Linked DNA regions of Homo sapiens: regions 1 and 2 are each linked to region 3. The links come from fine-mapping of genetic effects on gene expression. A gene starts in region 3. Each other region holds a variant in brackets. All regions are shown on one strand. Distances are from middle to middle.

Region 1 (8,183 bases), 100 kb after region 3:
TTATGTGCATCAACCGACCCGATTGGGATCTTGTGTGGGACCTTTGCTACAAAACCCAAACCCTCTCTTTAGCCCCGGGAAGATAACTTTCTTTTACACCAAAGGCTGTGTCTCCCCAGTTTGCAAACTGTTCACTGGGATGAAGTCTCTTTCCTCCCAATTTTGTTTTTCAGGGAACTTTTGCTCACAAAACGAATCACAGCTGGCCCACAGCAGAGCTGCAGGCGGGGCAGAGAACCCACAGCAGAGGGCTCTGTCACCGCAGAACCAGGCAGATCTGTGTGAGCAGCAAGCATAAACTCAGGGCAGCAGGCTCTGTCTTGAGGGCTAGAAGGAACGACGGAGCCACGGCGATGGTCTTTCTCCGAGATGCATTTCCAGGAAGTTGGAATTCTGATCTTACTGAGACTTTATTTTGCTGAGCTTGGCATTGACTACTTGGACACTGAGTCACTGTTTACTGCTTTCGAAAATAAGACAAGCTCATGGGCTTGCTGGGGATGAAGCAAGAAACGTGTGGCCCCATCAGGACTGGCGCCCAGAGCCCGGGTCACCCTGTGCACAGAACTGACACCTTAAGGAGACAGAGTGGCGCCGGCGCCCTGGGCCACCTGGAGGGCCCGAGAGCGGGAGAGGGTTCAGGGAGGGTGTCTGTGATGGGAGGAGCAGGCCCAGGACGGAGGAGGACAGAGTCGGGGGTCTCAGGGCAGTGTGTGCCTTCTGCCAGTCGCTAGGGCGGACTCGAGGTTGCCCTCCGCGCCTTCCTCGCTGTCACCTCCCACAGCCAAGGCAGCTGCCAAGGTCACTCCTAAATACATCCCAAGTCCACCCCATGCCGCTCCCCTCAGCCGTGGTCCCAGTCCAGACCACGATTCCGCCCAGACCCTGCATGACCCCTCCCATCTCAGGCTCCACTTGGGGACCAGAGGGATCTTAAAATATGGATGGGACAGTGACGCCTCTCCTTAAAAGCTCAGGAAAGATGAAAATGTCCTCATCCTCTCTCAAGGCATTTGCAGTTCCCCTACCCCGGGCGCTGCCCCACCCCTCACGGACTCCTCTCCATCCCCGGGTCCCCACCTGGCCACCTCCCTCAGGAAAGCTCCTGGCCCTACTCACCATCAGTCTCTTTAGGACCTCTCCACTCACCCTCTGGCGTTCACCTCTCCCTCTTGCCCGTTAGAGTGAGGCCTTGATGAGGCACCTGCCTTATTCCTCCTGCCCGTCCTGATGGCTCCTGCCCACCTCCACAGCAGAGCCTGCTTCTCCGTGCCTGGAAGCTTTCCCCAGAAGAGCAGGTCTGCATGTACACGCAGGTGCACACAAGCAACAGGCCGGGAGCACCCCTCACCCAGAGACTCTGCCAGTGTGTGTGCAGACCTGAGCTCCCTTGCCCCAGGAGGAACAGTGCTGGTGTGTGTGTGTGTGTGTGTCTCTGTGTGTGTATCTGTGTGTCTGTGTGTGTGTATCTGTGTCTGTGTGTCTGTGTATGTGTGTCTGTGTCTCTGTGTGTCTCTGTGTATGTGTCTGTGTCTGTGTGTGTGTCAGTATCTGTGTGTCTATTTGTGTCTGTGTCTCTCTGTGTATCTGCATGTGTGTCTGTGTCTGTGTGTGTGCCTGTATCTGTGTGTCTATTTGTGTCTGTGTCTCTTTGTGTGTGTATCTGCGTGTGTGTCTCTGTGTGTGTGTCTGTGTATGTGTGTCTGTGTGTGCACTCACACTGGTTCTCCAGGGTTCCTCCCAGGACTGAGCTGAAGTTGTCCACAGCGGCCCCTGCTGGAGCACACACCTTGATTCTCTGCCTCTGCTCCCCAGGCTCACTTCCCCATTCTCTTCTGGCTGCTTCCTGGCATTGCCTCTCAGATAAGCCACTTCGCGCTGATGGGAACTCAGATGCTGGGAGTACACATGCACCTTGGTGTCGAGCTCAGCGGCTGGCACAGAGGGAGGGAGAGAAGGAGGTGGACTACCAAGTTATTGTCTAAACATCAGCCTCTGGTCACCGCTCGTGTGAGGCAGTGAGCATCCCTTCTTGCCCCCTGGGCTCTCAGCGGTCAGCCTTGGGTCCTGGGGAGACTTGGCCAAGTCCCGGTTCCCTGGGGCTATCTCTCTCCTGCCCTGCGCTTTTGAGTGTCCCCTCCCCACATCCCCTCTTTCATCCTGACCCACTACTCTGGTTGTAAATAAAATAAGCAGACTACAACAGCTTACTATCACACTGTTCAGCCATGGACTGCCTTGTTCAGCCATGAACTGCCTTGTCTTGAAGGAATCCTAGTATTACTACTTGAATCCTAATCGCTCTTAAATTTGAAAAATTAAGGCTAATGGAATTTGTACAACAGTTGTATCAAGAGGAAAGTCTATGATAATTACTATAAAAACAGCCCAGCTCCATCAGCTTTGCATGGGTGATCGCTCCAGCGGTGTGCCCATCCTCAGCTATAGTCCCTTTCTACAGATTAGGAGGCAGAGGCCTAGTGAGGCTAGGGCACTTGCCCGGATCCCTTGCAAATGTTTGGCCCATGTCCCTAACCACCATGCTCTTATGTCTCCTGTTTTCTGGGTCACTTCTCACTATGAATTGGGGGATGTAAATATTTGCATAAATTGGATATAAATATCTGAAAGGTTTCAAAGGGAAGGAAAGTGTGTGCCTAGCGTCTCCACTGCTTATGCACAGAAGAGACGATGGGATGCTAGAGGAGCATGCTGAGTCTCTCTGTAGAACAAAATTATCAACCCGTTATCCAGAGCAGCTGAAGGAAAGGGCGGGACTCACCCAGTGACTGAGCAACCAGTGTGAGTGGAGTTGGAAGGGCAACCCCACCCCCGTGGTTACTTGAGGCAAGGACCGACCCTTCATCAAGATTACAGAAATGACCCCATCCTTTAACTCATTATTCACTGCTCATACACTAAACAGGTTGCTTTCTTTGGCTCTCCCCCACCCCGACCCTCGCTCTCTGCCTTTCTTTCCAAAACCTCCACTTTTAGGAAACTTTGGCTGCTGTTTGCAAAATTAGTTCCCAGGTCAAGACATTACATTTGGTCTGGAATTTTCGGGCTCCACCTTTTGGCAAAGGACCACGGAAGTGGCCTTTGGTCCACCCAGCCCTGTGTTTTTCAGCGGGATGTGCTGATGCCGCAGCTGCACTCCGGGGCTGACAGTAGCTGAATGTTCATCAGCAACGCTTAGCACAGTTGGCCACACCTCCAGGGCCCAGGCACAACTTTAATTCAGCCACAGTATCTTCTAATTTTCCCTAATGCTCATGAGAAAAATGTGCTCTCTATAGTTTTTATCCCTAAAGGTTTTCTTTTCTTAGCTGCTGAAGCCACCGAGATTTTCACAGATGGCCAGCACTTCTCACAGCAGTGGTGCCCAGTGACCCGTTTAATAGGGGTATCAGTTCCTGTTCCGGCTCAGACACTTAGAATGTGGTTCTGGTTTCCAGTAATTTTTGATCCTGGAAACAAAAGCGGATGTATTATCCTAGCACCAATATTTCTAATGCAGCCTGTCCACGTAAAAGCCCCGGAGGGCTCAAGCTCTCGAGATGTTTTCTGGAGCCATAACACTGGTCATATTTTAAGTTCAAAACCCCAAAAAGAATATTGATGCTTCAATGGTGGTTTCTGATCTCCAGGAAGGCTGGGGTCAGGGAGGCCTGTGCTTCCTCCAGCCTCGGCCAGTTAGGCAAGGAGTTGGGTCCTGAGCCTCAGTTTCCTGCCTCACAGGGAGGATGAAAGGGGCACTGGTAACACATTTGGCCTTTGCTGTCCTTAATAGACTCCTTAGAGCCATGTGGAAAGTTCCA[A/G]TGGACTTTGGCAGAACCTGAAGGGGAGTCCCCATCACACACAAGCCCTTGTTCCCCACCCAGAGCCCCTGTGAAAGGAGGAGGGGGACGGCCAGATCCCAGAATTATGGGCAGGGATCCTGAGTCAGGTTATGGGCAGGATCCCACAAGCTCCCATCTCTCAAGCCCAGTCCTTACCCTTCCCTTGTGGAGCAGGCTGGGCCCAGAACCCACCGCTCCCAAGGTCATGGTATTCCGCAGACAACCCAGGTCATTCGGGCAATCCCTGGGTGATGATGACACCTTTTAAAACATATATTACAGAAATTTTCTATGTTTGTGTAGGAAAATTAGAAAATCAAAAGAACCAAAGCCAAGAAACATTGAAAATACCTATAATTCCCCTTCACTATGATCCTACTTCACACCACTCATGTTTTGATGTTTTTCTTTACAGTATGCATTATATATATTTATATATGTACATCCATAATTGTTTTCATAAAAATGAGTTCATCTTGCAATCTATTATTCTCAACTTTCCAATGGTTTTTTGGAGTCCCCAAATACATTGCAAAAGATTCAAACAACATAAAAATGAATAGAGCCCCTTCCCCATCAGCCCTCACACTCATGCATCCCCTTCTGGCTGCTGCCGTTCCCTGCTCCAGTAAACAATGCTGCCGTCAACATCTTCCCAGGGCTCCAGCTCACATCCCTTTCTCTGGAGCAGACACAGAGAAGTGGAACTGCTGACTCAAAGCATGGGCACACTCTTTATTTTGATAAATACACCAGTTTGTTCTCTAAATAGCTGTACTGATGTGTTCTCCTGAAATTGGAACAGCTGTTTTCCCACACCTGCTAACATTTGAAATCATTACAAACTTTAATGTTTGCCAGCCTAATAGGTGAAAAGTATTATCTCATGGCTGTTTTAGTTTGTATTTCCCTGAATACTGGTGATGTTTACATTGGCCAGAGCATCTCCACTGCTGTGAATAACCTCCTCACATCCTTGCCCCTATGTAGTGAGTCTTCTACAGTGATTCTAGAACTTCTTTCTATAGTCTGGCACTAAATCTTTGTATATTTTTTCTCCTAGTTTTTTAAATGTCTTTTAACTTTGTTTGTAGTACCTTTATCACAGATAATTTTAAAAATATTTTTATGTAATCAAAACCTTCACTTTTCCTTAATAAGTTTTGTGAGTTTTTTGAAAATGTGTCCACCTAAATAATAAACAGAGACTAAATAAAAAAGAGACTTTCTAAAAGAAAAGATACTTACTCGGGAAGAAAGCATTGCAATAGGAATACATATTCCGTAGTAAATTATGTTGTATTCAGAGAGGTAATGGAAGACAAAGGTTTTTAAGGGAAAAAAAAAAAACCTTTCACAAATGTCATATGCATATAAACTGCAGTTTTAGTTTTTATATTTCTTTCTTTCTTATAAAGAACTTCCAGAAACATTAATGACAGAAAAGAGGGATCTATTTTTTCCCAAAATTATATCCAAGTATCACAATTGAATCCAAGTATCATTTTTGAACATAACGAAATTTCCCATGTATTGGAAAGGCTACACACACCATATACGAAGGTATTACTTACAGTACTTGTGTGTGTGCTAAAATTGCATTCTGTGTGCTCTGTTTCCTTGAAAGTCATTTCCATTTGTTGAGTCAGTGCCTGCCTTTTCTGGTGCTGATTTGCTCCTCTCTGTGCTTAAGAATCCTTGTCATCCCTGTTGAGTTTATCTTAGCCTACAGCAGGGGTTGTGATGGAGGTGCTGGAGGTGGTTGAGATGAAGAAGGTACCTTCCTCTCACTCCCAGCTGCCGGGATTTCTGGTGCTCTACCCAGCCTGGCTGGCCTCACTGCTGTACTGCCCTGTTGACCGTATGATCCTCTTCCTTCGCTTCTCTCTGCTCAGCAGAAGGTGGTGGGAAGTAAAGAGCTCTCAGCCTGGGGTGTTAGATCCACCTACCCAGATCAGCTTCTTGAGGCTACTCAGGAGTTTCCTCGCTTTCTATATCCATGGCCTCTGGCTTCAGAATTCCCAATGGCTTCTATGTGTGAGGCTTTTACCTCCAGCAGTGTCTGAGCTGTGCGGTCCTCTACCCTGCTTCTTTATGGATCATATCCTTTCCACTTTCTCTCTCTCTCAGAAATTCATCAGAACTTCTACCCAATGCAGTTTCCCACATTGAGGATTTATACTTATCTGACATTTTACTGGATTTGGGATGAGCCGATCTTCTCATTATCCTTCTGGAGCATACAGTTCTGCATTGTCATTGCACCCAGCTGTGGAGAATCCCACGCATACATATCCTAAAATGCATTGCTCGGCACCGGGCACATGCCACTCCTAGTTTTAAATATTATTAATAGTCACAATGAACATCACTACACACATATCCTGGACACTTTGTTATTTCTTTTTGTTTGTTTTTTTCTTTTTTTTTTTTTTGAGATGGAATCTCATTTTGTCACCAATGCTGGAGTGTAGTGGCAAAATCTCGGCTTGCTGCAACCTCCTTCTCCTGGGCTCAAGCAATTCTCCTGCCTCAGCCTCCCAGGTAGCTGTGACTACAGGCACCCGCCACCACATCTGGCTAATTTTTTGTATTTTTAATAGAGATGGGGTTTCACCATATTGGCCAGGCTGGTCTCGAACTCCTGACTTCAAGCGATCCGCCCACCTCAGACTCCCAAGTGCTTGGATTACAGGCATGAGCCACCACCCCCAGCCTGTTATTTCTTATAGTAGATTCTTAGAAGGAGATTTATTGGGTCAACCTATATGACAATCTGTATTGCCTATGACCATAAATACTCCCCACTTATCATCCGGAAGAGTTTCATCTGTCTGTGTTCCCACCACCTTTAGAGAGGACCTCCTCACCACCCAGTCAGGACAGCCTCTGCTACTTGTTTTCTGTGTGCCTAATAGGTTTGCTTTGAAATCTTATTTATTTATTTTTTTGAAAAGGAGTCTTGCTCTGTCGCCCAGGCTGGAGTGCAGTGGCGCAATCTTGGCTCACTGCAACTCCGCCTCCCTGGTTCATGCCATTCTCCTGCCTCAGCCTCCCGAGTAGCTGGGACCACAGGCACCCGCCACCACGCCCGGCTAATTTTTTGTATTTTTAGTAGAGACGGGGTTTCACCGTGTTAGCCAGGACGGTCTTGATCTCCTGACCTCGTGATCCGCCCGCCTTGGACTCCCAAAGTGCTGGGGTTACGGGCATGAGCCACCGCACCCGGCCTGCTTTGAAATCTTATCAAAGCCCTGTAGGCTCTTACTCTGAACTTGTCCCAAGACCTTGCAGTTGACTTTGATGAAGCCAAAGTCTGTTCTGTCTTAAAATGAGCCCTGAGCAGATGACTGTGCCTAAACTTCCACCATTAGGAGCTTGCTTCTGGCCTCTGCCAAATTCCCAGCTTGGTCTAAAACCCCTAGCCCTGGCTCTGTCAGGCTTCCAGCCTCAGGAACTAGGAGGGACCAGCCCCCTGGGGATCTGTCTGCCCTCTGTGGGTCCATCATGGGTTTAGTGCCCACAGCGAGTCATACCTGCATGATCATCTGGTTACCTTCATTTTATTATTAAAATCCCAAACCACTTCATGAAGCATTGCCACTCTGGGGAAATCATGTCTTTGTGAAGTTAAGTAACTTGACTTGAGCAAGTCAAGGATTTATACCCAAGCCCAGCTACCTGTGAAGTCTCAGCCTCTATAGAAACTGCCAAAAAAGTCCTGATGGCAGCCTGCTTTGGGCCCAATCCTCAAACGTGGACAACTCTCACAATAGAAGGGACATATAAGTTGGGGATGTTATAGATTCTGACGATGTCAGAAACAGTTTTTCCCCTGATCACCACCTCCCCCAGGTATCGGCTCAAAAGAGAATCACTGTACGAGCTGCAGAGGTGGGGACTGATACTGGTGTGTTTTGTGGAGAATCCCCAGTGCCCAGAGCAATCCTTAGTGCGTAGTACGTGCTCAAATGTATTTTTAAATGCTGAACAAATGCTTCTCAGTTGTTAGCTTGCAAGAAGAGGAAGAAAGGCACATTGAGCAAAAGGAAGAGTGTGGACATCAATTCTAAGCAGCGTCCCATTTCTACACACACTTTCAGCCACACAGGAAGCACTGGCTTACCCTCTCCATGGTGGCTGTACCCCCATCTCATGTCCTAGTAACTCAAGGACTTTCCAGTCAACATGGTAAAGTTCCAAAAGTTATATCCTCTTGGCCCTGGCAGGGAAAGATTCTGCAGTTCCTTTGGGTTTTGGAATCACGCGCTTCATATGGGCATTTCTAAGGATGGGACATAAAGCACATGAGCTCTGGGGAAAAAGGACTCAGCAGAGAGT
Region 2 (8,183 bases), 41 kb after region 3:
ATGGGGGTTAGGGACCCTCTTGAGGAGGCAGTCTGTTCATTCTCAGAGCTCAAATGCCATGCTGGGAGAACCACTGCTCTCTTCAGAGCTGTCAGACTGGGACGTTTAAGTCTGCAGAAGTTTCTGCTGCCTTTTGTTCAGCTATGCCCTGCCCACAGAGCTGGAGCCTAGAGGCAGTAGGCCTTCCTGACCTCTGGTGGGCTCTACCCAGTTCAAGCTTCCTGGCCACTTTGTTTACCTGCTCAAGTCTCAGCAATTGTGGATGCCCCTCCCCCAGCCAAGCTGCCACCTCACAGTTCAATCTCAGACTGCTGTGCTAGCAGTGAGCAAGGCTCTGTGGGCATGGGACTTGCCAAGTCAGGCACGGGAGAGAATCTCCTTGTCTGTTGGTTGCTAAGACCTTGGGAAAAGTGCAGTATTTGGGTGGGAGTGTACTGTTTTTCCAGGTACCATCTGTCACAGCTTCCCTTGGCTAGGAAAGGGAAATCACCCAACCCCTTGTGTTTCCCAGGTGAGGCAACACCCGGCCTGCTTCAGCTTGCCCCCCGTGGGCTGCACCCACTGTCCAACCAGTCCCAATGAGATGAACCAGGTACCTCAGTTGGAAATGTGGAAATTACCCATCTTCTCTGTCAATCATGCTGGGAGCGGCAGACTGGAGCTGTTCCTACTCAGCCTTCTTGGAACAGAGCCCCCCTCACAAAGGACTTTCTCTGGCTAACTCTGATGCTTTTCTGAGTTCTTACCTAAATTTCCCCTTCTCCTTCTGTGGCCCTGCCAGTTTTGTTTTGTTTTGTTTTGTTTTGTCCTTATCACTACCCTTGCTGCCTCCTCAAATTATCCAGAGCCACTGTTGTTTTCTAGAACATTGGCAAGCACGTTGATAGAGTGCCCACATTGTACTGAACTCTGAGGGGAATAGTCTCGTCCCCATCACTCAGGTGGGGAAACTGAGGTGAGGTTAGTTTAAAGTGGGTAAGCAGTGGGTTTGGAATTGGAGCTCTGGCTGGCTGGCTCATGTCCGTGCTCTTCCCACCACAGCAGGAGGCCACTGGAGGCTCCAAGGGCTCTGAAATGTTGAGAACTTCCCTGCAGGTACCAGCGAAGAGGGCAAGAACACAGCACTACTTCCTTGGATACTGTTTCCCTCCTCAGAGGGGTTTTCTGAGCTGCCCTGGGTCCTGTGAGGAAGGTAGGAATTACATTTCACTAGGGAACAGCCAGGGTCACCTCCTTGCCTGAGGCCCCACCATCCCATCAGCCTGGATGGGCCTGCTCAGCAGCCACACTCGCCCCTAGGCCGAGAAGGGGTGGGGCTCGGTTCCACAGAGTCTCCCAGGGCCTCAGGCAGGTACTCTAGGCTGATTCCATCTCCAGGTTCGCAAGTAAAAAAAAAGTCAACTGCCCAAAAGACTTCTCTTAGAACTCACAGCAGGTTAGGCTGGCAGGTGGAGTCTATGCTCGGGTGGTCCCATCTGCCAGGCCTGATGTTCCAGGTGAAGAGATTGGTGAGCACCAGGTGACCCCACCCAGGTGCACGTGGCTCTGTCGGGTACAGGCAAGTCTCTGCCCACCAAAGGGACACCACAAGGGCCCAGGCAAAGCAGAGCCTTTCTCACTGGGTGTCTGCTGGTGCTGATGTCACCAAGGAACACACCCCGGGCAGCTTAAACCACAGACGTTTATTCTTGCATAGGGCTGGAGGTCACAAGTCTGAGATCAAGGTGCTGGACAGCCTGGCTCTTCCTGAGGGTGGCTGGCAGGTCCAGTGCAGGCCTCCCACCTTGGCTGGTGGACAGCCATCTGCTCCCTGGCTCTCCATATCACCTTCCCCTTGTGCCTGTCTCTCTCCAGATCTCCCCTTCCTGTAAAGACACCAGTCCTACTGGATCAGGGCCCACCCGTGTGACTTCACTTTTACTTGAGTACCTCTCACAGACCCTAACTCCAAATCAGGTCACTTGCTGAGGTACTGCATGTGAAGACTTTGACATTTGAATTTTGAGGGGGCCACCGTTTAACCTGAACCACCAAGGACAGAGCCAAAGACCCTGGGTGACAGGCCCAGAACAGGACCTGGTGGAGGCTCTTCTTTAGGGGAGAGAGGGAAATGGGAGCCACCACTGGCAGAGCCTGAAGGCAGGGCAGCCAGAAAGAAGCTGTGGGAGTCCCCACCATGGAAGACCCTGCCGAGCATCCTGTGTCTCCTGAAGCAGACCCTGACATGAGGACTGGGGGCACGTGTTTATTAAGGGCGATCCCCGGAAGGAGGAGATAACCAGGTAGGGAAGGAGGGAACCCCAGGGCAGGGCTCTAGAGAGAGAGGATGACCCTCAGGAGCAGGAGGGTGCACCTGAAACCAGACCCAGCAAGAGATGGAAGCCCTGGGAGCAGCCCCACTCCAGGTCCTCTGCAGGAGTGACCCAGCTGCCACCAGGCTGCCCTGCCCAGCTCAGCAGGCCCTACGGGTGCAGGGAAGCAGATGGGCAGTGAGATCTGGGACCGGTATAGAACCACAGCTGCCACAACTGCCCATGGCTCCCTCCCTTCTTTGACGTCAGAGTGAGCAGGGCGGTTTCTGCTGCCTTCGCATTCCAGCCCCACACACCTCCCTGCAGCCTGGCACTGGAAACTGCTGAGCCATGCAGGGCAGCCTGGTGGCGGCTAGGACACTTCTGCAGAGGACCTGGAGTTGGGCTGCTCCCGGGGCTCCCATCTCTTGCTGGGTCTGTTTTCAGGTGCACCCTCCTCCTCCAGGAGGCAGGGGCAAGACCAGCTTCAGCCCTTCTTGCTCTCCATGGTCTGTATATGGACAGGGTGTGGGCCCGGGGAGACAGTTGTGTGGTGTGTGCATTGTGTGTGTGGGGGGGGTTGTCTGTGTGTCTGTGAATATTTGTGTGATATGTGTGTAGTATGCTCATGTGTCATGACTCTGTGAGGGTGTGATGGAAGAGTGTGTGTAAGAGAGAAGTTTGAGTGTGTGTGGTGTGTGCATCTGGTGTCTGTGGGTGATGTTTGTGTACATAGTGTCTGTGTGTGTGATGTCGGTGTGTTGTGTGGGTTTGTGTGTGTATATAGTGTCTGTGTGTGTGATGTCAGCGTGTTGTGTAAGGATTTATGTGTGTGTGTGGTGTCTGTGTTTGTGATGTTGGTGTGTTGTGTGTGGGTCTATGTTTGTGTGTGATGTTGGTGTGTGTGATATCAGTGTGTTGTGTGTGGGTTTATGTGTGTGTGTGTGATGTCTGTGTCTGATGGTGTGTTTTGTGTGGGATTGTGTGTGTGTGTGTGGTGTCTGTGTGTGTGATGTCAGTGTGTTGTGTGTGGGTTTATGTGTGTGATGTCGGTGTGTGTGATGTCAGTGTGTTGTGTGTGGGTTGATATGTGTATGTGTGATGTTGGTGTGTTGTGTGTGCATTTATGTGTGTGTGGTGTCTGTGTGTGTGATGTCAGTGTGTTGTGTGTGGGTGTATATTTGTGCATCATGTCAGTGTGTGTGATGTCAGTGTGTTGTGTGTGGGTTTATGTGTGTGTCTGATTTTGGTGTGTTGTGTATGGGTTTATGTGTGTGTGGTGACTGTGTGTGATGTTGGTGTGTTGTGTGGGTTTATGTGTGTGGTGTCTGTGTGTATGATGTCAGTGTGTTGTGTAGGTTTATGTGTATGTGATGTTGGTGTGTGTAATGTCAGTGTGTTGTGTGTGGGTTTATATGTGTTTGTGTGATATTGGTGTGTTGTGTGTGGGTTTATGAGTGTGCATGGTGTCTGTGTGATGTTGGTGTGTTGTGTGGGTTTGTGTGTGTGGATGTGGTTTCTGCCTATGGGAGGAGGTTTGCTCACAGATGGAGGAGAAGGAGCTCTATAGGCAAAGATCCCAGGGCCGTGGAGGAGGAGACACAGTCCTGAGAACTCCTTCCTCTGAATCAGAAGGACAGGAAAGGTGGGATTTTAAAGGAACAGAGAACCCTGGTGGGAGAGGTGAATCTGAGCTCCTCGGGCCATCGGGTGTCCTGTGGAGCAGAGGCAGGCCCGTGAGGGTGATTTTCAGAATGCTGCCTGCTTCTGAGAGTGAGATGAAGACCCTCTGGGGTCCCGTTGATGTCACCAATGTCGCCTGTCTTGAGGCATCTCTGGTCCAGACCTGGCTGGGAGAGAGAGCTATGGGTGGAGATGCACTGGGTGGGTGCTGGTGGGAGGGGAGGGCTGGCTTTTCCTCAGCCCCCAGACTTAGAGAAGATCACACGCAAGAGCTTGGAAGTCCTGGGAGGAAGTATGATCCCGAATCCTGGCACACTTGATCATGCGTGACAGGGACTTAAGAAAGCCCCTAATTATAGCCGTGTGGGGTTTGTCTCCCTTCTGAAGCTTGGCGCCCGTGTGCTCAAGGCAAGGGCGTGACCAAGGTAAGAGACCCCTTCTCTCCCTTAGGCAGAAGTCCTAGCAGAGTATGCCCACGCT[G/A]GTTAGTGCTGCTGCAAAGATGAGCCGAAGACCATGAGAGACCTCCAGGTGGTCCTTCTGGGGAGAAGAAATGGGTTTTGGCCCCAAATCCTTCTGCTGCATTTTTCCCCTATCCCTGGGAAGCCATGAGACCTCAAACCTGTGTTCCCAAGGAGGCGAGCTGCTGTTCCCAGGTGATGATATGATGTGCTTGGGGAAAGTAAGTGGCTGCCAGACATGGCTGAGAGCTGTTGTCACTGCCGTCAAGTGCATGTCTCCAAGCCATATCACACGGCGTCCCTCGATGTGAGGCCACATGGCAAGTGGGCCGTGGATCTCCCTCTGCCCTTTGCAAGCACGTAAGACAGCAGATTTTGCAGATACCTTGTGGCGCAGGGGAATTTCCTTTGGCCAGGTCTGAAGAAATAAAGCAGCAGGCACCGAGAACAAAGCCAAGGCTTTCAAAAGACAAGGAGCCAAAAAACTTACTCAAAATAAAAGTAGTTTTAAAATGTCTCTGCCATTGGTAGTCTCATTTTCTTTTTAATGTAGGAAATAGTCAAGTATTAAAATGACCAAAATGAAACAAGTGCCTCATGGACTGAGAAGGAAGGAGGAAGATAAAAAATGAAACCAGGACAGAGAAGAGAGGGAGGTTCTGGGTGTATTTGCTTTGGGATTACATGTGCGCATGTCTTGTTTTTCCCTTTTATATCTCCCTCATCTGAAATATGTAGCAAAGAAAAATTTAAGCTGTAAGAGGGAAACTTTTTCCAAACAGTGAAGTTTACCAAACTGTGGCCTGAGATCTATATTCACATTCTAAAAAACCATGCCCAATTCCCCACGCTAACAGCAGCTCCAGACCAAAGAGCAGCTCTTGTCTTGACCAAAGTGAATAACTATCTTAACACGAGGTGACTAGAAACCATCTGTCTTGAGACCAGAGAGGAGACCTGTGGTCAGTGACGCTGTTCAGCAAATACTTGCCATTCCTGACCTCCAGGCTCAAGGAGGGATTGGCCACCCTGGTCCCCTAGGAAGATGGGGCCATGTGCTGGCTCTGGACAATGGTCATGATGGAAATGGCATCTGCTCTTGCAGGCCAAAGAGTTTAATTGCCTCCAGAGCTCTCCTTCCCTCTGCAACAGTGACCTACAATGTCCAGGTAGCAGTCCTTCCATCACCTTGAATCTCAGAGTAAGAATGACATGGAGTAGAGCCCCCCAGGTAAGCTGTATTGAACATGTAACATGTAGATGAAATCAACTGTTGTTTAAATTCACTAAGTGTGAATTACATAGCACAACTATACTTATCTTAATTGACACAAGATGAGTTTGTTTCTTAGCTGACCAATAGCAAAAATCCAATAAACAGATGAATAAATTAATAAATAGATGGATGAATGGATGGATGGATGGATGGATCAGTGGATGGGTGGGTGGATAGATGGAGCTGTTAGATATGGCTCTTTGTTTATAAATCTCAACCACAAACTTTGTCACTTCTCCAGAATAAAACTCCTACATGGTAGGGACTCTGTGAATGTTATTAAAATGAGAGAGCTATTAGAAGCCAAGAGATGAGGCTGATTTTTACCTCTGGCTTTAGAATATTTGGTGCCACTGTGTATAAGCTTTACCCACCATTGACAAAAAGGGACCCACTATGGACACCTCAGGAAGTTCTTCAGCCTGCAGGCACTTCTGTTCCGGGTAGGGATTCAGGTTATCTAAACTCCAACCAAGTGTGACCAATAACTCTTGTTGCTCCTATAGCCTCAGCAAGAACACAAGCAAATATGCTCTCATTTTTGATAAAAAGCATGTCTATGATTGTTGATGTGCAAATATAAAGAGCCAAGCATGGAGAAAGAAGAACAAGAGTTAAAACATACCTCAGTGACCACCACCAGCCCTTACATACCTGCCCTGTCCTGGTCCCCTTCTCCAGGTGCCCTCTTCAAAGTATCCCAAACCAGAGAAACAATATAACCAGTGACCATCAGGGAGATTTCAGTTCCAGACCTAGGACCTGCAATGAATTTCAGGGGAAAAGTGCTTTCCTTTTTTATCATCTACTCAGAGGATGTTGACTGACAGCTAAAACTACTCAAAGGGTACAAAATTCAGCCTTATGGTTTCAAGAATAGTCAACCCTGCATGTGAAATCATCAGAGAATGGAGATTTGCCCCCTGTCCAGGCAGGCTCTTAAATTTGCAGTTCAGATATAAAAAAAAGGTCTCACTTGTTTACTTATCTGTTTTGCATATATTTTTTATTTTCTGTTGAGTATGATATTTGATATAAAAAAAAAAAAACTTTTTAGCTGAGGATGGCTTCTGGGGTTAGCCAGTTCTTAGAGACAGCAGAAGACTCAGCTGGGAGCATGCCTTTGATGCACCAACTAACCCATCCAGAGCCATTCCCTTCTATCTGGCCTGTACATCTCAAAAGGCAATATTCCTCTACCTTGACAAGCCCAGGGCCAGCTACCAGGCAACTAGAGACCACCAAAAGCCCCCTAAAATTATTCCAATTGGCCAATTCTAAATTGTTCACACTGCCCTGTTTTGCCTTTTCCATCGAAACCAAAATAAGGACTGAGGTCCAAGCTGTCCCTAGCTCCTGTCTTCTGCCATCTGACCAAAGCTTGGTGCTTCCAATGTGGCCCTGAGTTGTATGTGGTGGCCTCCTCTCTGGAACTGTGCGTGTAGTCAACTTTGTCTTTCTCACGTCTCCTTGGTGGTGGCATCTGACTGATTATCTCATAAAGAAACACAAAACATTACTGTTTCTGTTTCTGATCTTTAAAGCCAATGAGAATAGACATGCCCAGTGCTGCTGGGCAGGGCAACAGGCGCTCAGCACTGCTGTGGGAAAATGAACTCCTGCAATCTTTCTGGAGGGCAAACATCAACAAGGCTTGCCAACCTTTAACATGTGCACACACTGCCTCCCAGCCACTCCAATTCTAGGAATTTATCCTAAGAAGATAATGAGTTAATTGCAAATATGAATATCCAAAAGTGTTTATCACTGTTTAACATAGAATCATGAAAATTTGGAAACAACTACCATGGACTATGGTAGGGGATGGAATAAATAAACTTTGATGCCATATGCAGTAGAATGCATAAAACCTGCATTTGAAAAAAGTATTGTGTGCCACGAGAAAATACTGTATGATAAAGATCTTTTAAGGCTCTATGACATTTTCTGTATGATTCCGTTTAATTGTGTAAGTCTGTATATAAACAATGCTATTAACATCAACATGCTCTGTGGTGGGTTATAGGAGATTTTTATTCACGTCTCAGTACTCTTCTGTATTTTCAAATTCTTGACTGTAAAAATCTACTTCTCTAGAATAAGAAGAAAAAATCTATAATTTTTTAATTGATGGGGAAACAAACCTTGAATGATAGGAACCAACAGTTTTGTCAGTTATTCATAATTAATGCTATCAGTATTTAGTAGTTCTCTTCAAGCATGCAGGTTTACAAAACACCACTGGTTTATCATCTTGTGAATCAAGACCCATTTTCTTGAGTATAGAGGCTCTGGCATGGTGAAAACACTGAACACTTAATTCACAAGAGCTCAAGCAAGACTTGGCAAAAAAAGAAAAAAAAATCAAATCATTTTATGGATAAAGAACAAAGCCAAGGTGGAGATGGCCCCTTTCTCTTCTTTGTTAAAACTGATCATTGATCATTGATGGAACATGGAACTTGGGGTTTGGGG
Region 3 (8,183 bases):
CAGACTGTCTCTGCAGGGCTGCAGGCAAGAAGTGAGGTGAGCTATGTCTTTTCCAGTGAGAGTCACCTGCCTGGGTTCCCCGAGTCGGCCAACACCAGCTCTAGACGACGTAGCGTGGGTCACTTATCTGCCTCCACCTACCCGGAGATGTGCTGGGAAGCACAGTGACCCAGCCACCATGTCAGTTCTCTTTCCTCAAAACAGTGCTGACCACAGCTGGCTCCACAGAACAGATATCCATTGAGATGCTCTGAGGGATGTGTGGAGGGTTTCGGAAAATACACTCTCTCGGGGCTTGGAGGTCTGGCACCCACTCTAGCATGGCTGTGGCTCCAAGGAGAGCCTGGCCTTGCCTGGGAACCTCTGCCATGTCACCCTCTTCCCTGGCACTCCATGAAAGATGCAGCTCTCACAGCTCCCAGATGTTCTCTCAGCAGGAGCTATACAGGTTAGCAGGAGGCAGGAGGCCCAGACTCCTGGACAAGTGTAGGCAGCTCTCTCGGTGGGCTGCTGGGGAAACCCTGCTGGCTGGTGGAAAAGAGTTAAACCTTTAGGACAGAATTACATCCCTTAGATAACCCAATTCTCCCCAGCTTGCAGGGCTGCTCAAGTCAACAAGCTCTCCATACTCAGTGAGCCAAGGATGCCAGATGGCAGGCTGCGGGCACTGATGGGCCAGAGGACCAAGTCAGTGTTACGTGGAGAATGAAAACAGGGAGAATGAATGACAGAGCATGACCGGGCGGGCTGAGGTAAGGCCCAGGAAGGCCCATTTCCACAAAGAGCCACACGGCAAGAAGAAGCCAGCCTGGTGGGGAAAGCAGCCTGTGCAAAAGCTTGGTTTGTCCAAATAAAGAGAAGGAGAATGACACGGCTGCAGTCTTGTGAGCCATGGCAGAGGGAATTAGAGCAGCCACAGCGGGCAGTAAGAGGCCAGGAAAGGGAGGTCAGGACTTCTATCAGTGTTGTGGAGCAAGGCTGCTGGGTCTGAATCAGGAACATGAAATCATCTGACTGGTGGTTTTCAAAGAAAGAGCTTGCTGCCTGCCTGCGGGGAAGGACTGCAGGAGGAGGATGCTGGATGCAAGTAGGGAGGCTTTGCAGCAGGACAATCCAGGGTGACGGCGTGAGGTATGAGGGTCAGAGTTGAGATGGAGTCAGTCTGCAGACTTGGCATGGAAGGCGAGAACTCACAGAGAGAGCACGTGTGCTGTATGTGTCACGCAGGATGGCAACCGCTCCCAGACGGGCACTGATGGAAACAGTGAATCAGAGAAAGGGCTGAAACAGTGCCCTGAAGCCTGGCCAGGCAGGGTCACTGGGAGCACCCTGGTGGGGTGTGCAATTGTATGGTTCATTTGCCCAACACGGCACAATGCACAACAGAGAAAATCAAATCAAACTCCAGACAAGAACACTTTGCTTAAGAAAGCAGATGTGAGAAATGTGCCACTTGTTTGTGAAAGTTTTTCATCAAAACAGCTCTCACAGAGATGGGGGGGTTTGATTTAAATGAGAAATGTGCTTATAAAAAACAGATCTTTGGTGAGTAATGAATAGCTATTATCTTATCTATTTAATTATGTATTTAAACGACATATGAAATTTATTATATTTTCCTAAACAAGTTTGAATTATGTTTTTGATTATCTGAAGTGCAACAAAGTTCATCTGCAATGATTCAGCTGTTTATTCATTCTAATATATGGCCACCTACTACACTGTCTGGCACCTATCGAGAGTTTAACAGATGTTTAATTAATAAGTAAGCATCAGTTGGTGAATAGCAGTGCTATTCCAAGATCTTGAGGAAATATTAGAATCTATAAGATGTGGCTCTTCCTGGACAATCAGGCTGAACTCAGCAATTCTGCCACTTCTCAGAGGCCAAAACCACTCCATGAGAAGGCTCCCTATCAGAGCCAAATCACCTCTGGGCAGAGCCAAGATAAATCCAGTGCAATCTACATGAAGTTGTCTGTTTAGACCACACAGATCTGCACAATCTTCCCTACAGGGCCCTGGTGACATCTGCTGAAATGAATGAAGCAGTCGAATCAAGGGCACCATGCTTCACAGTCACGTTTCTCATCTTTTCGCTGCATGGACTGTTCTGCGGGGACGTGGCGGGTCTCGGGGCTGGGCAGTCTCAGAGGGTCAGGATCTGAGCGCACTATGGATCCGGGGAGAGGGAAGGGTTAAGAATCAGTGAGGAAGGGGCTGGGCAAGGACATTCTACCCACCCCCCACCCCCCGCCAAAAAAAAAAAAAAAAAAACAACTCACAGGAGGCAAATCTTTGGTGTGTATTTGCAAATGCCAAAGAGAAACATAAAAGAATGGTTTTCCTATGGAACACTGAAGAAAAATGTCGATCCTGATCTTTCCTCTGTCTCCTGCTTGCCCCCTGCCCTACGAGGCCAAGCAGCCAAGCAAGTGGTCAACAGGTGGCCTCTCCGAGCAGAACCGTTTCAGATGTTTAAGAGAAATGACATTTTAGGAGTGGAGCAATGAGCTCAACTTTCTGTGACAAACTTCAGGGGTACTTGTTTAAAAGCATGTTATTTGTGCTTCACCCACAAAGGTTCCAATTTGGAAGAGCTGAACTGGGCCCAGGAATGTATATCCTTTGTGTGTCCAGGAGGAGGTGTGGGTGGAGATAAGCAGCTCCTTGACCACACTTCAAGCAACAACTGGGGTGTGATTCTGAGGCATGTCTTCTCCTCCTCCATTGACTTTCTCCTCTCCAAAGGGTTATCACTGGTGTGACCAGCTCCTCCAGAGGTACCTAAGGTGATCTCATAGCAAAGACCCACGCCCTGGACCCATCCTGCTAGTGATGAATCTGAAGGTTCTGAAGGTTCTGTGCATAACCATGTGGAGCCTGAGTGCACAGGGGCCCAGAGCTATCCTGATTTCTAATCTGGAGCTCTTTTGTCTCTACCAAACTGCTTCTTTATTGAAACTTTACATCCTGAGGGGTTCACTGAATAACAGCGACCCCAAGGCACCTAGAAACAAGCAATGTCATGTTTCTGTACTTGGATTAGAAAACAGGAAGGGAAGGCAGGAGAGTGTGTGGTGTATCTTAGAAAAACTTTTTAAACGTGATACAATCTGAGGAAAATTTGCATTGATGCCAGTAGAGGGCTAGATAGCTTTAAAATTGATCATTTAAATGTATTGACGTAGAAACGTATTCACAATATACTTTAAATGGAAAGCTGTGTTAGGGTCAAGTCTTACAATGCGATTCCACGGTTGCACTGCCACACACACACACTTACATATGTGCCCAGAAAAGCATTGGAAGTAAACCACGTCCTCCTGTTAATAGCAATTGTTTCTGGGTGGTGGAGTTTAGGGGAACTGATGCACTTTTTTCTTTGGTTTTGCCCATCTGTACTGTAACTTTCCCCGAACAAATGTGCATCACTTGTGTCATAATTTACTTTTTTTAAATACATGGAAACAACCACAGTCTGTATTTATTCTCTGGTTAAAGTGCTAAGCCTTGTAATCTAGAATATTCATCTGTCCGAGACTGTACCCTGGGACTCATCTCACGATGAGACATTTGGCCTCCTCCCCAACTCAGTTTCAGAATTCATCTGCTGGATTTCTGAGTCCCACTGAGTGATTAATGTCACACGGGTGACAAGGCATGACTCATAGGCACCAAGAAAGCAGCAGCAGTGTGTGCAGGCCGGGAAGTTGCCACAGCCCTCACTCAGGGCTTCATGCACGCCAGGGCAGTCCTGGGTCAATGGTCTCTTTCCCCTCCTCCTGTTGGATAGATGAAGAGGCCTGAGCAGGAAGGTGGTGGTTCCGTGGGGAATCTTCAGTGACTGGAGTATGTTGTAAGGATGGTGAATCGTCACTTGGCCAGCCAGGGTTTGGCAGTCAAGACAGAGAGCAGTGTCTGGGCCCACAGCATGAGAGACTGCTGGACTTCAGTCTTCGGAGCAGGCAAGAACGGGGAGCTTCTGTGGATTTCTATTCCTGTCGCCTGTCACTGTGAACAGTGCCCAGTACTGCTGGTCAGTAAATGTTTGCTAAAATACTGAGCAACCAAGGAAGTGACTTCAGTTGAACTCTGTACCTGTTGTGTTCACTTCCTTTGCAACATGCGTGACTAATGGTTACTCCTTCTCTTGAATGCTTCCAGAAGAGTAGCACTCACCACCTCATGAGGAAAGGCACTGCAACTTTGGTCAATGATATCTGTTAGAAAGATCTTTTCCTATATTTAGAAGAGTGATTCTCATACCTGAGCATGTATGAGAATCAGTGGGTTTGAGGTGGGCCCAAGAATTTCCCTTTCTAACAAGTTCCCAGAAGATGCTGATGTGGCAGCTTCTAGCACAGTGCTTGGAAATCCATGAGTTTTCAAGAGGACAATCTAAAGTGTTCCTTTGTTTTCCTTTACTTCCCCTCATTCTCAAATCCTATGGGGATGACACAGAGAACCACAAACAAAACAACACACACACACACACACACACACACACATACACACACAGAGCACCCTTGTCCCTAGCTTTATCCTCTGGGATACACAGGACAAGCTCCTCCCTGTTCTATGTGCAACTTTTAAAATATGTGCAACTTTTAAAATACGTGGATGTGGCTTTCACATCTTCTTAGTCCCTCTTTAGCAGATTTTTTACAAAACAAATAAGCCAGGAAACCATGGTCTGAAAGGATTCCTGCTCTGGTGAGATCCAAGACCCACAGCGAGGGCGAAGACAGAGGTCTTGCTGCAGCCCCGGCTTCCTCCACATGGAGGTCCCAGGAAGACGGCATAAGCCATTGCCTCGATAATAACCTGCTTGCTAACTTCCAGCCAGTGCTTCCACATTTTCATGACTTCCAAAGGTTCAGATGAGGATGGTAGTTGTGAGTTTGGGATGAAGTCTTCTGAGCGACTCCTATGGCCCAGCCACAGGGACCTGGGGCTGGAGAGAGAGGACCATCCCAGGCTGCAGCAGCCAACACCTGTGTGGAGGTGCAGGCCCGTGGCCCCCAGCTGTGGTGGACACAGCTGTGCTTCCTGATAGCACCCTTCCCTGCACCTACACCGTGACATCCTCCTCCTCAGCCTGAGTGCAGGCACCACCTGAAGGGTATTTGGGGGAGGGCACCAGTGTCCCCAAGGTAGGAGCTAGTGCATATGGCCTCGTCCTTCAGAGGGACAATTCTGAGAGGCAATCTGCGTGCTTTCAAAGGCCCAGAAACACACCCTGTGTTGCCTCCTCCCTGTCTGACTCTTCCTCTTCCTCCTGCTCCCTGGGACCAGCTCCCAAACAAACTCAATTTCTTCTCTCAGTCGAAGTTTGCTAAGTGAGTGAAGAGTCAAATAAATGATGTTGCTTAACTCTCCCTCTGATGTGTGAATGTCCTCTAGGAACAAGCCTTTTGTAGGAGAACTGTAGGCCAGGGCTGAGTGCACCTGGGATGCAGGATCTCCAGGGGGGACCTATCACTTGTGCGAATTTAAACCTGCTCAGAGCTTAGGGCCCGGCTCTGCTCAAGATGGGCAGAAATAAAGAAGACTAAACATTTACATCTCAAGAGTTTATTTACCCTGGCCTGACTCTTCAAAAAATGCCATTGCTGCTACCCTGAGGATTAACCATGGCCATTTTTAGACCAGGTGCCATCCTGCCTTTAGCCTCGGGTCACCCCTCTGACTCACTGCCAGGAAACGGAGCCTAGACCCTGATGTGTGGTGAGAATTGGCCTGGTTTTCACCTGAGATCCACACTTGAGAAAGCTGATTGAACTCACAGCGTGCCATCCTGCCTAAGATCCTCTTCAGAGATTCTATTTCCCAGAGGGAGGGGATCACTTTCCGCAGTGGGGTTTCTATCTGGGACATTTCTCTTCATCTGTAGGAACCCTATTTAAAGGCTAGAAAATCTGAGGGAGAAGTGGAAAGAAGAAAGCTGTGTAGCTGTGACGATGGCCTGGGACATGGATTCCCAAAGCCTGACCCTCCGCTGTGCCCCCTGCTCCCCAGCAGGCATGGTTAGCCTGTCATGGAACCCTGCACCTGAGCCTGGGCGAGCTCCAGATTCCTCAGCACACAGAGCTCCAAGCTCCTCCTGCCAGGCCGCCAGGGCTGGCTCCCGAGAGAATGCACAAGCCTTTTGTGGTGTCTGAGAAAACACAGCTGAATCTACTAGGCAAGGGGTTGTATAGGGCACCTCGGGAAGAAGTCGCACAGGTGCCCCCAGAGATCTCAGGGGCAGGGAGGGGCTCACCCATAAGGGAAGGGGAGGACTCAGAAGGCTTTGAGGAAGAGGCAGCTCCTAAAATGGGTGAGGGCAGAGTGTGCCCTGAGGCCCCACAGCAGGCAAGCAGGTGACTGGAGAAGCAGCTAGGTCTGGTGCCTGTGTGCCAGGCTTGTATGCCAGGGCTGGGCTGCATGGGATGCACAATGCTACTGGGCCAGCACCATCAGCAGTGTACTGCCCCTCACACCCAGGGCAGGCCTTGAAGCTAAGAGAGGGATGGGGCAGTGCCCATCGTTCTCCTGCCACTGGAGTGTGACCTTCTGGTGCCATGACAGCCAGTGGGTGGCAGGTGCCTGCCCCTCTTCCCATAGGCTGCCCCAGGAGGAAGAGGGGCCCGTTCCTGTGAGTAGAGCACAGTGAAACCACTCTCTTTTCTGCACAGTGAAAGAGACATCCTTCACGGGGTGCAGAGAAGCTGCTGCCCTTTCCTCCCCGTCAGGCCAGAGTCTTCCCTACTCCCTGCTGGGGCCAGGGAGGACAGAGGCAGCCCTGAAGCTTCCTGTGGCTCAACTCTTGAAGGCTGCTCAGTTAGAGAAAAAGGATGGTGCTGACCATGGAGGAATCTCACACACACTCCAGGCACCCTGCCTCTGCCTTGCTCTCTGCAGTGGCCACTGAGAACTCTTAGGAATTGACCCTTGCTTCTTAGGCACTGGGCATGAGAGAGGGCCCTCCCTTGCTGTGGGGGCCTCCCAAGACCAGGGAGGCTGGGCCTCTGGAGGTCTCCCCTGAAACTCCTTACCCAGCGGGATCATGCCCTGGGCCTTTGTGCCTGCCGGAATCCTGGTGGGTGGAGGAAATCCGTTACCCTCATGAGAGCTACCTGCCTAGACCCCTGCTGACCTGACCTCACCTTTTGTTTGACCCAGGAACTTACCCGCCCCTTGCTGGGGGTTGGAACTGTCACATGTCCTAAGCCAGCATGAACAGGCAGGATAGTTAGGCTGACTGTGATTGTGCTGGCCATGATGCTCGACTTGGCCCTAGGCTTGACTTTGTTTCATCTGTAATAGTCTCCATTTTTTCTTGCTGTGAAGTAAGCCACCTCAAAACTTAGTGGCTTAAAACAGCAGTTTATTCTTCTTCCCTACCATGGGTTGAGTGTGTGGTCCTTCTGCTGTGCTTGATGTGACTGTGTGGCGTCGTCACAGGGGGGCTTAAATGGGGTGAGACACCAAGCATGGCTCATTCAGAGGCCCAGTGCTTTGGGGAACGGCCAGGAGGCTGCACTCAGCCAGGACCCTCAGCGTCATCTCAGGGTCTCTGCCTCTCTTCGTGGCCTCTCCATGTGGACTTTTTAATTACATGGCAGCTCAGCACTCCCAGAGCACAAATAGGAGCTCTATCTGTAGGAGGTGGCCAGGCCTTCTACAGCCACAGGCCCAGGTCCCTTCCACCACAGCATGTGGGTCACAGACCTGCCCTGACTCACACAGTGGAAGGCAACAGGGCAGCATGCACACCGAAAGCCATCACTGGATCCTGTGTTTACAGCATCTCAATTCCACAGCAACACCCGAGTTTCCATCAAGGAGGCAATGAAGACCCAGCCCGGGCAGCAGGAGGCAGCGGTGTTATCAGGGGCCCACTCGTTCTGAGGGACCATAAAAATACTAGGAAAAGATCATTTTTCATCTTGACTACTTAACAATCTTACAGTTTTATTATAGTCTTAAAGCTCCTGGCCAGGGTTTTATCTTTGGGAAGTATCTCTTTATGTGCCAAGTGCCACCAAACAGCATCTGTTGGTGCCTCCTCCTACAGGAAGCAAGTGCCTCCTCATACAGGAAGCACTGGCATTAGGAACACCCTGTATTTCTCGCCTGCAGCTGCACTGTGTCACTCACTGATGTCATTCTCCTATCTGAAGGGCTCAGGGTCCACT

What was found. PIP is the estimated chance that this variant, and not a neighbour inherited with it, causes the effect.
Region 1: its variant is fine-mapped to the expression of LINC03125 in pancreas (GTEx, PIP 0.98).
Region 2: its variant is fine-mapped to the expression of LINC03125 in unexposed skin (GTEx, PIP above 0.99). The same link has a PIP of 0.9 or more in aorta, lung, sun-exposed skin and tibial nerve.

The regions. Positions count from the first base shown.
Region 1 is chr20:23,244,056-23,252,238 of GRCh38, forward strand. No RefSeq gene overlaps it. Among named protein-coding and RNA genes, the nearest start is that of LINC03125, 100 kb to the left of the region's middle. RefSeq lists a silencer at 1,657-1,951. The variant A/G (reference allele first, on the strand shown) is at 3,822.
Region 2 is chr20:23,185,359-23,193,541 of GRCh38, forward strand. It overlaps LINC03125 (long intergenic non-protein coding RNA 3125), which reads left to right. Exons shown (of 6, transcript NR_199692.1): 5 at 1,957-2,282; 6 at 4,425-4,949. Among named protein-coding and RNA genes, the nearest start is that of LINC03125, 41 kb to the left of the region's middle. The variant G/A (reference allele first, on the strand shown) is at 4,455.
Region 3 is chr20:23,144,376-23,152,558 of GRCh38, forward strand. It overlaps LINC03125 (long intergenic non-protein coding RNA 3125), which reads left to right and starts at 3,728. Exons shown (of 6, transcript NR_199692.1): 1 at 3,728-4,039. RefSeq lists enhancers at 3,177-4,376, 5,871-6,854.